Homo sapiens: one gene and its partner. The protein of the gene in region 1 interacts with the protein of each later gene in a pairwise test. Each region holds a gene or a part of one and is shown on either strand. Other genes may lie near its edges.

Region 1 (3,813 bases):
AGATTGGGACCATCCTGGCTAACACGGTGAAACCCCGTCTCTACTGAAAATACAAAAATTAGCCGGGCGTGGTGGCGGGCGCCTGTAGTCCCAGCTACTCGGGAGGCTGAGGCGGGAGAATGGCATGAACCCAGGGGCGGAGGTTGCAGTGAGCCGAGATCGCGGCACTGCCCTCCAGCCTGGGCGACAGAGCAAGACTCCATCTCAGAAAAAAAAAAAAAAAGAAAGGCACCAGCACCAGGCTGAGCTGGCACGTGGGGCAGATGACCCCACTGCGGCCAGGGGCTGCTGGAGCTGAGCCGGCACCGCCTCCCTTTCCAGACAGAGATGCGGAACGAGACCGTCGTAGTGGCCTGCGTGAATGCTGCCTCGCCCTTCCTTGGCTTCAATACTTCGCTCAACTGCACCACAGGTATGATGGGCAGGCGTCACCGTCAGCGTGGCCCCGGCCAGCCCCCCGCCCCGGCCTCCTCTGATGGGGCCCTCTGGCTCCCCTGCAGCCTTCTTCCAGGGCTACCCTTTGTCTCTGAGCGCCTGGTCTCGCAGGGCCAACCTCATCATCCCCTACCCAGAGACAGACAACTGGTACCTCTCCCTGCAGCTCATGTGCCCTGAGAATGCTGAGTAAGTAAACCTAGGGCAGAGACGGGGGCCAGGCACCCTGTCATTTCACTCAGGACCACAGGCCGGGCTGCCTGAGGTTGGCGTTCGGAGTGACCCAGCTAGAGGGGTGCTTCCTCCAGGGCTGCTGAAAGCTGGGGGCCCTAATGCTGCGTTCTCATGTCTGTCAGCCTGTTGGGAGCGCTGGTGGCAGCTGGGCTGTCAGATCACTGCACCAGCTTTCCTGTGGCCCCTTCCTCAAAGGGACTGTGAGCAGGCTGTGGTCCACGTGGAGACCACCTTGTACCTGGTGCCCTGTTTGAACGATTGTGGACCCTATGGCCAGTGCCTCCTGCTCCGCAGACACAGCTACCTGTATGCCAGCTGCAGCTGCAAGGCAGGTGAGTGCCAGGGCCCCGCCCGCCCCGAGACGCTGCTGCTGTTGGCTTCCAGTGCTGTGCTGTGCCTTTCCCCTGGGGGAGCGCCGCAAGGGGCTGGAGAGAGACCCTTGCAGAGCAATGCAGGGGCAAAGCCTCCTCCCCACTCCCCCATTCCCCACCAACAATCCGTCTGCCTGGCACAGGCACCAGGTATCCCCGGGGGGTGGTACTGCCTCCTGACCTTGGACCCCGCCCGCCGTGCCTACCCTGCTTGCTCCTGGGTGAGGAAGGGGCTTCTCTGCAGGGTCCTGGGTGAGGGGTGGGCCCTGAGGTTCAGCAGTGCCCCCAGCCTCCGCGTCGGGGTTTTGTGACCGCAGGCTGGCGTGGGTGGAGCTGCACGGACAACAGCACAGCCCAGACGGTGGCCCAGCAGAGGGCGGCCACACTGCTGCTCACGCTCAGCAACCTCATGTTCCTGGCCCCCATCGCCGTCTCAGTGCGGCGATTCTTCCTGGTGGAGGCCTCCGTCTACGCCTACACCATGTTCTTCTCCACGGTAGGCTGGCCCCTCCTGCAGGGATGTGGGGTGGGAGGGCAGGACCGCGCTCATGGAGCCTCCCCACAGTTCTACCACGCCTGCGACCAGCCCGGGGAGGCGGTGCTGTGCATCCTCAGCTACGACACGCTGCAGTACTGCGACTTCTTGGGCTCCGGGGCGGCCATCTGGGTCACCATCCTGTGCATGGCACGGCTCAAGACAGTCCTGAAATACGTGAGTGGCCCTCGACGTGGGGTGTGGGCTCCGGGGGAGCAGGGCCCCCAAGTGCAGCCTGCGAAAGGCAGTACCGTGGGAGAGGCCGGACCTGGCGTTGGGCACGGCCCCTGGAAACCTCACATCTCGGCCGAGCATGGTGGCTCACACCTGTAATCCCTAGGCCGAGCATGGTGGCTCACACCTGTAATGCCTTGGCCGAGCATGGTGGCTCACACCTGTAATCCCAACACTTGCAGGAGGATCCCATGAGGCCAGGGGTTCAAGAGCAGCCTGGGCTGTACAAAAAATCGAAAAGTTAGCCGAGCGTAGTGGTACATGCCTGTGGTCCCAGCCACTCGGGAGACTAAGGTGGGAGGATCGCTTGATCCCAGGCATTGGAGGCGTTGGAGTGAGCCGAGGTCACAGCACTGCACTCCAGCCTGGGTGACAAAAGAAAAGAAAAGAAACCTCATGTCTTCTGTGATGCCACACGGAGATGCGGGTCTGAGACCCCGCAGGCAGTTGTGAGGGGGCAGTGCCAGCTGTTTGGAGGATGCCAGGAAGGAAGGTGGTAGGCAGGGGAGGCCAGGCCCCCTGCCTTCGAGAAGCCCCCACCCATGCTCCCTGGGTCCTTGGGGCCAATGATGCTTTGGGGACTCTCTGTGGCAGCTGGCCCTGGCAAGGGGAGACTCATGCCCTGGGCTTGTGAGCTGCATGCTCTGCCCTCCCATCTGCTCTGGGAACTGCAGGCTGGGTACTGCCCCAAGGGGGTGCCCATGGGAGCCCCACAGCCAGGGCAGAGGGGAGGCTGGGAAGCACCAGGGTCCTGCAGGGCTGAGTGCGGGGCCTGAACCTGCAGATAGGCAGAGAACTGTAGGCTGTGGGCAGAGGTGTCTGATGGAGACTGGGGGGTGGGAGCCCCTCCCCATGGAACAGTGGGTGGGAGACTGAAGCCACCCTGATGGGGGACTTCTAGAAACCCAGTGGTACAGGGGGCTAGTGAGTGTGTGGGTGCAGAGCGGCCATATGCGTCTGTCCAGTTTGTGTGAGCATCGTCTAATCCCCCAGAGATGCCTGCCTGGCCACATTCACCTGTGGATGCAATACAGAAGCTGAAGGAGGGGCATGTCCCTGCCGGCTGGCAGAGCTAGTCAGAGGCTGGCAGAGCTGGTCTGAGGGTGGCAGCAGCTCCGAGGGGGCAGGCAGAGGTGCTGTGGGGCCGTGGGGTACGCGTGCTCCTGCTGGGCCTTGAGCCCTCAGAGACGTCCCTGCAGTCATCCCTGTGTCTTGCGCAGGTGCTGTTTCTTCTGGGTACACTGGTCATCGCCATGTCCTTGCAGCTGGACCGCAGGGGCATGTGGAACATGCTGGGGCCCTGCCTCTTTGCCTTCGTGATCATGGCCTCCATGTGGGTAAGGAGCCGGGCTGGCTGGCACTGCTGCCCAGGTGCTCGGAGAAGAGAGCCTGGCCCCTTGCTCTAGCCACGTTCCTGGTCCTGCTCCAACCAGTGAATGCCCATATCTGCTGGGGGTTGCCATGGCACCCACAGAGGCCCAGCATGGCTGTGTCCCTGAGGCCTGGGCCTGAGGACCAGTGGCCTTGAGCCCCCTCGAAGCAGCCCACCCTTGTCGTTCTGCTGCCCAGACCTGGGCAGGCCCCCAGTAACCACCGTATCTGGGCCCTGGGAGCTGCAGCCGCGGCCCCACCTGCACTGATACCTGCGTGGCTGTTTTCTCCAGGCTTACCGCTGCGGGCACCGGCGCCAGTGCTACCCCACCTCGTGGCAGCGCTGGGCCTTCTACCTCCTGCCCGGCGTCTCTATGGCCTCTGTGGGCATCGCCATCTACACCTCCATGATGACTAGCGACAACTACTACTACACCCACAGCATCTGGCACATCCTGCTGGCCGGGAGCGCAGCCTTGCTGCTGCCGCCACCTGACCAGCCCGCCGAGCCCTGGGCCTGCTCGCAGAAATTCCCCTGCCACTATCAGATCTGCAAGAACGATCGGGAGGAACTGTACGCAGTGACGTGACACTGGCCTGGGGACAGCTGCTGCTCTGATGACCTCTTCAGCC
Region 2 (3,813 bases), on another chromosome or scaffold:
AGCCCTACAGCAGTGCTGTTTACTCATTGGAGGAACAGTACCTTGGCTTGGCTCTTGACGTGGACAGTGAGTACCTTACTATGAAGGTGATAAGCCTCCACCTGGTCTTCCAGATAGGGGTGATATTCCTGTTCCAAGTGGCCCTTACTGACCCGAGAGATGTCATTGCCGCAGGCAGGACCTATGGGCGCATATAGGTTGTAATGAAACTGTAGTCTCAGTTGGAAGCCTAGACATGAAATGGGTCAGTGAGCAAGGCTCTATTCCTAGTCTCCAGCCATGCCTGTGGCAACCTGAGCCCGCTCTCAGCACATTGGACCCAGGCAGATGTAAAAAATTCACAGAACTATGATTTGGACTCAAGGGTTTGTAGATTTCCTCCTTCATTCTAATTTCAGTGTCTAAAATTCTTACATCCATGAACGAGCTGGGCATTTGATGAGACAGGGCTGAATACTGCAGTTTTCCTCCTAGAAATCATCTGGGGCATTTTCTTTGAACTGATGGGAACAATAAGGCATAACTGTTTGCACAAACTTGGGATAAGTGATTTTGGGATAACGATCTTCCAGAATGGGGATATTTCACCCTTGGTTCTGAGATGCAAACCAAAGAATATCATGACCAGCTTTCAGGCCTCCTGAAGTATATCTCTCACATTGTCCTGTTCTCATGCTGAGGAGCCTGAGATCCCTGTGTGGGGATTAGACAGTGGACTGTTATGGGTGTAGGTGAATTGGCTTATTTTGTCTGTCCCTGTCTGAATGTATTGCAGGAATTAAAAAGGACCAAGAAGAGGAAGAAGACCAAGGCCCACCATGCCCCAGGTAACTGAGCAATTGTGAACAGCTACTTCTGTGTTGACATCTGGAGACTCCTGGTTCAGGGAAAACAGAGCGGGCTGACATTATCGATTACATCTTTTCAAGCAAGCCTGAATTATTCCTACTAACATTGCTGTTGGTTTTCATTGCAGTAGATATTTAGGTTTCCATTTCTTCCTCCCCTTATCATTTACTAACCTACTGTAGGTGGACCAGACTTCAAAAACTGTATTCTCATGGCGACTGCATGGAAACTTGAACACATTTTATGGAAAATTATTGAGCACAGTCTTTTCATGATCACTGTATGCTGTGTGTCCTGAGGGCACTAACTCAGAGTGTCCTGTTACTCCCTCATCAGTGTGTCACCTGGACAATTCACTGAGCTCGTTCTCTCTCTCTCTGTGTGTGTGTCTGTGTGTGTGTGTGTGTCTATCTGTCTTTCTCTTTCATTCTTTTCCATTTGGCCCTGTTCTGTCCCAACATGAAGGCAATAATTTGTTACCTCATTAATGGATCTATCCTTTTACTTTCTTAACCACTTCCTTATGCTACCCATGAAACCTAGTTGGGGCTCTGTTGTGTGTGATTTCCCCTGGCTTATTCTTTACTTTTTCCTCCTTTTCCAGGCTCAGCAGGGAGCTGCTGGAGGTAGTAGAGCCTGAAGTCTTGCAGGACTCACTGGATAGATGTTATTCAACTCCTTCCAGTTGTCTTGAACAGCCTGACTCCTGCCAGCCCTATGGAAGTTCCTTTTATGCATTGGAGGAAAAACATGTTGGCTTTTCTCTTGACGTGGGAGGTGAGTACCTTTCTATGAAGGTGATAAGCATCCACTGAGTCTTCCATATAAAGATCATATTCCTGCTCCAAGTGGCCATTACTGAGCTGAGAGATGTCATTGCCGCAGTGAGGACCTATAGGCACATGTAGGTTGAATGAAACTCTAGTTCTACCTGGAAGCCCAGACATGGGATGGGTCAGTGAGCATGGCTCTCTTCCTAGTCTCAGGCCATACCTGTGGCACTCTGATTCTACTCTCATGACATTGGACCTGGGCAGATGTGACAAATTCAGAGAACTATGATTTTGACTCAAGGGTTTGTAGATTTCCTTTTTCACTCTAATTTCAGTGTCTAAAGTCCTCACAACCATGAACAATCTGAGTATTTGATGAGACAGGGCTAAATATTGCAGTTTTTCTCCCAGAAATCATTTGAGGGTATTTGCTTTAAATTGATTGGAAAAATATGGCATAACTGTTTGCACAAACTTGGGACAAATGATATTGGGATAACGATCTACTAGAATAGGGACATTTTACCCACAGTTTCTGGGAGAAAAACCGAGGAATTTCTATCATGACCAGCCTTCAGGCCTCCTGAAATATATCTCTCACAGTGTCCTATTCTTATGCTGAGGAGCCTGAGGTCCCTGTGTGAGGATTAGACAGTGGATTGTTATGTGTGTAGGGGAATCAGCTTAATGTGTCTGTCCATGTCTGAATTTATTGCAGAAATTGAAAAGAAGGGGAAGGGGAAGAAAAGAAGGGGAAGAAGATCAAAGAAGGAAAGAAGAAGGGGAAGAAAAGAAGGGGAAGAAGATCAAAACCCACCATGCCCCAGGTGACTTTCAGCAATTGTGGATGCTTAATTCTGTGTTAACACCTGGAGGCAACAGATTCAGGGAAACCAGAGTGTGTTTGATGTCATGTTTTCAACGAAGGCTGAATTACTCCTACTGTCATTGCTGTTGGTTTTCATTGCAGTAGATGTTTAGGTTTCCATTTCTTCCTCCCCTTATCATTTACTAGCGTACCATAGGTTGACCATACTTCAAAAGCTGTACTCTCATGGCCACTGCATCGAATTTTGAGCATATTTTATGGAAAACTATTGAGCTCACTCTTTTCATGATCACAGTTTGCTGTGTGTCATGAGGGCACTAACTCAGAGTGTCCTTTTACTCCCTTACCAGTATGTCACCTGGCCAATTCACTAGGTCACTTTCTCTCTGTCTCTGTCTCTGTCTCTCTCTCTCTGTCTTTCTCTTTCATTGTTTTCTACCTGGCCCTGTTCTATCCCAACATAAAGGCAATAAATTTTTTTTTTTACCTCATTAATGGATCTATCCTTTTTCTTTTCTAACCACTTCCTTATGTGACTTCTGAAATCTAGTGGGGCTCTGTGGTGTCTGATTTTCCCTGGCTGCTTCTTTAGTTTTGTCTCCTTTTCCAGGCTCAACAGCGTGCTGATGGAAGTGGAAGAGCCTGAAGTCTTACAGGACTCACTGGATGGATGTTATTCGACTCCGTCAATGTACTTTGAACTACCTGACTCATTCCAGCACTACAGAAGTGTGTTTTACTCATTTGAGGAAGAGCATATCAGCTTCGCCCTTTACTTGGACAATAGGTTTTTTACTTTGACGGTGACAAGTCTCCATCTGGTGTTCCAGATGTTAGTCATATTCCCACAATAGGCAGCCCTTACTAAGCCGAGAGATGTCATTCCTGCAGGCAGGACCTATAGGCACGTGAAGATTTGAATGAAACTACAGTTCCATTTGGAAGCCCAGACATAGGATGGGTCAGTGGGCATGGCTCTTTTCCTATTCTCAAACCATGCCAGTGGCAACCTGTGCTCAGTCTGAAGACAATGGACCCACGTTAGGTGTGACACGTTCACATAACTGTGCAGCACATGCCGGGAGTGATCAGTCGGACATTTTAATTTGAACCACGTATCTTTGGGTAGCTACAAAATTCCTCAGGGATTTCATTTTGCAGGCATGTCTCTGAGCTTCTATACCTGCTCAAGGTCAGTGTCATCTTTGTGTTTAGCTCATCCAAAGGTGTTACCCTGGTTTCAATGAACCTAACCTCATTCTTTGTGTCTTCAGTGTTGGCTTGTTTTAGCTGATCCATCTGTAACACAGGAGGGATCCTTGGCTGAGGATTGTATTTCAGAACCACCAACTGCTCTTTACA

Evidence for each region.
Region 2: the proteins of PGAP6 (region 1) and NBPF19 interact in a two-hybrid assay, tested with the Homo sapiens proteins (one large-scale study listed by BioGRID).

The regions. Positions count from the first base shown.
Region 1 is NC_000016.10:371,944-375,756, reverse strand, and holds part of PGAP6 (post-GPI attachment to proteins factor 6 precursor), read left to right. Parts: intron 1-321; coding exon 322-412; intron 413-500; coding exon 501-624; intron 625-864; coding exon 865-1,001; intron 1,002-1,357; coding exon 1,358-1,536; intron 1,537-1,605; coding exon 1,606-1,752; intron 1,753-3,029; coding exon 3,030-3,146; intron 3,147-3,473; coding exon 3,474-3,770; 3' UTR 3,771-3,813. UniProt on the Homo sapiens protein: Involved in the lipid remodeling steps of GPI-anchor maturation. Lipid remodeling steps consist in the generation of 2 saturated fatty chains at the sn-2 position of GPI-anchor proteins (GPI-AP).
Region 2 is NC_000001.11:149,551,434-149,555,246, forward strand, and holds part of NBPF19 (NBPF family member NBPF19), read left to right. Parts: coding exon 1-66; intron 67-775; coding exon 776-827; intron 828-1,453; coding exon 1,454-1,626; intron 1,627-2,340; coding exon 2,341-2,449; intron 2,450-3,061; coding exon 3,062-3,305; 3' UTR 3,306-3,813.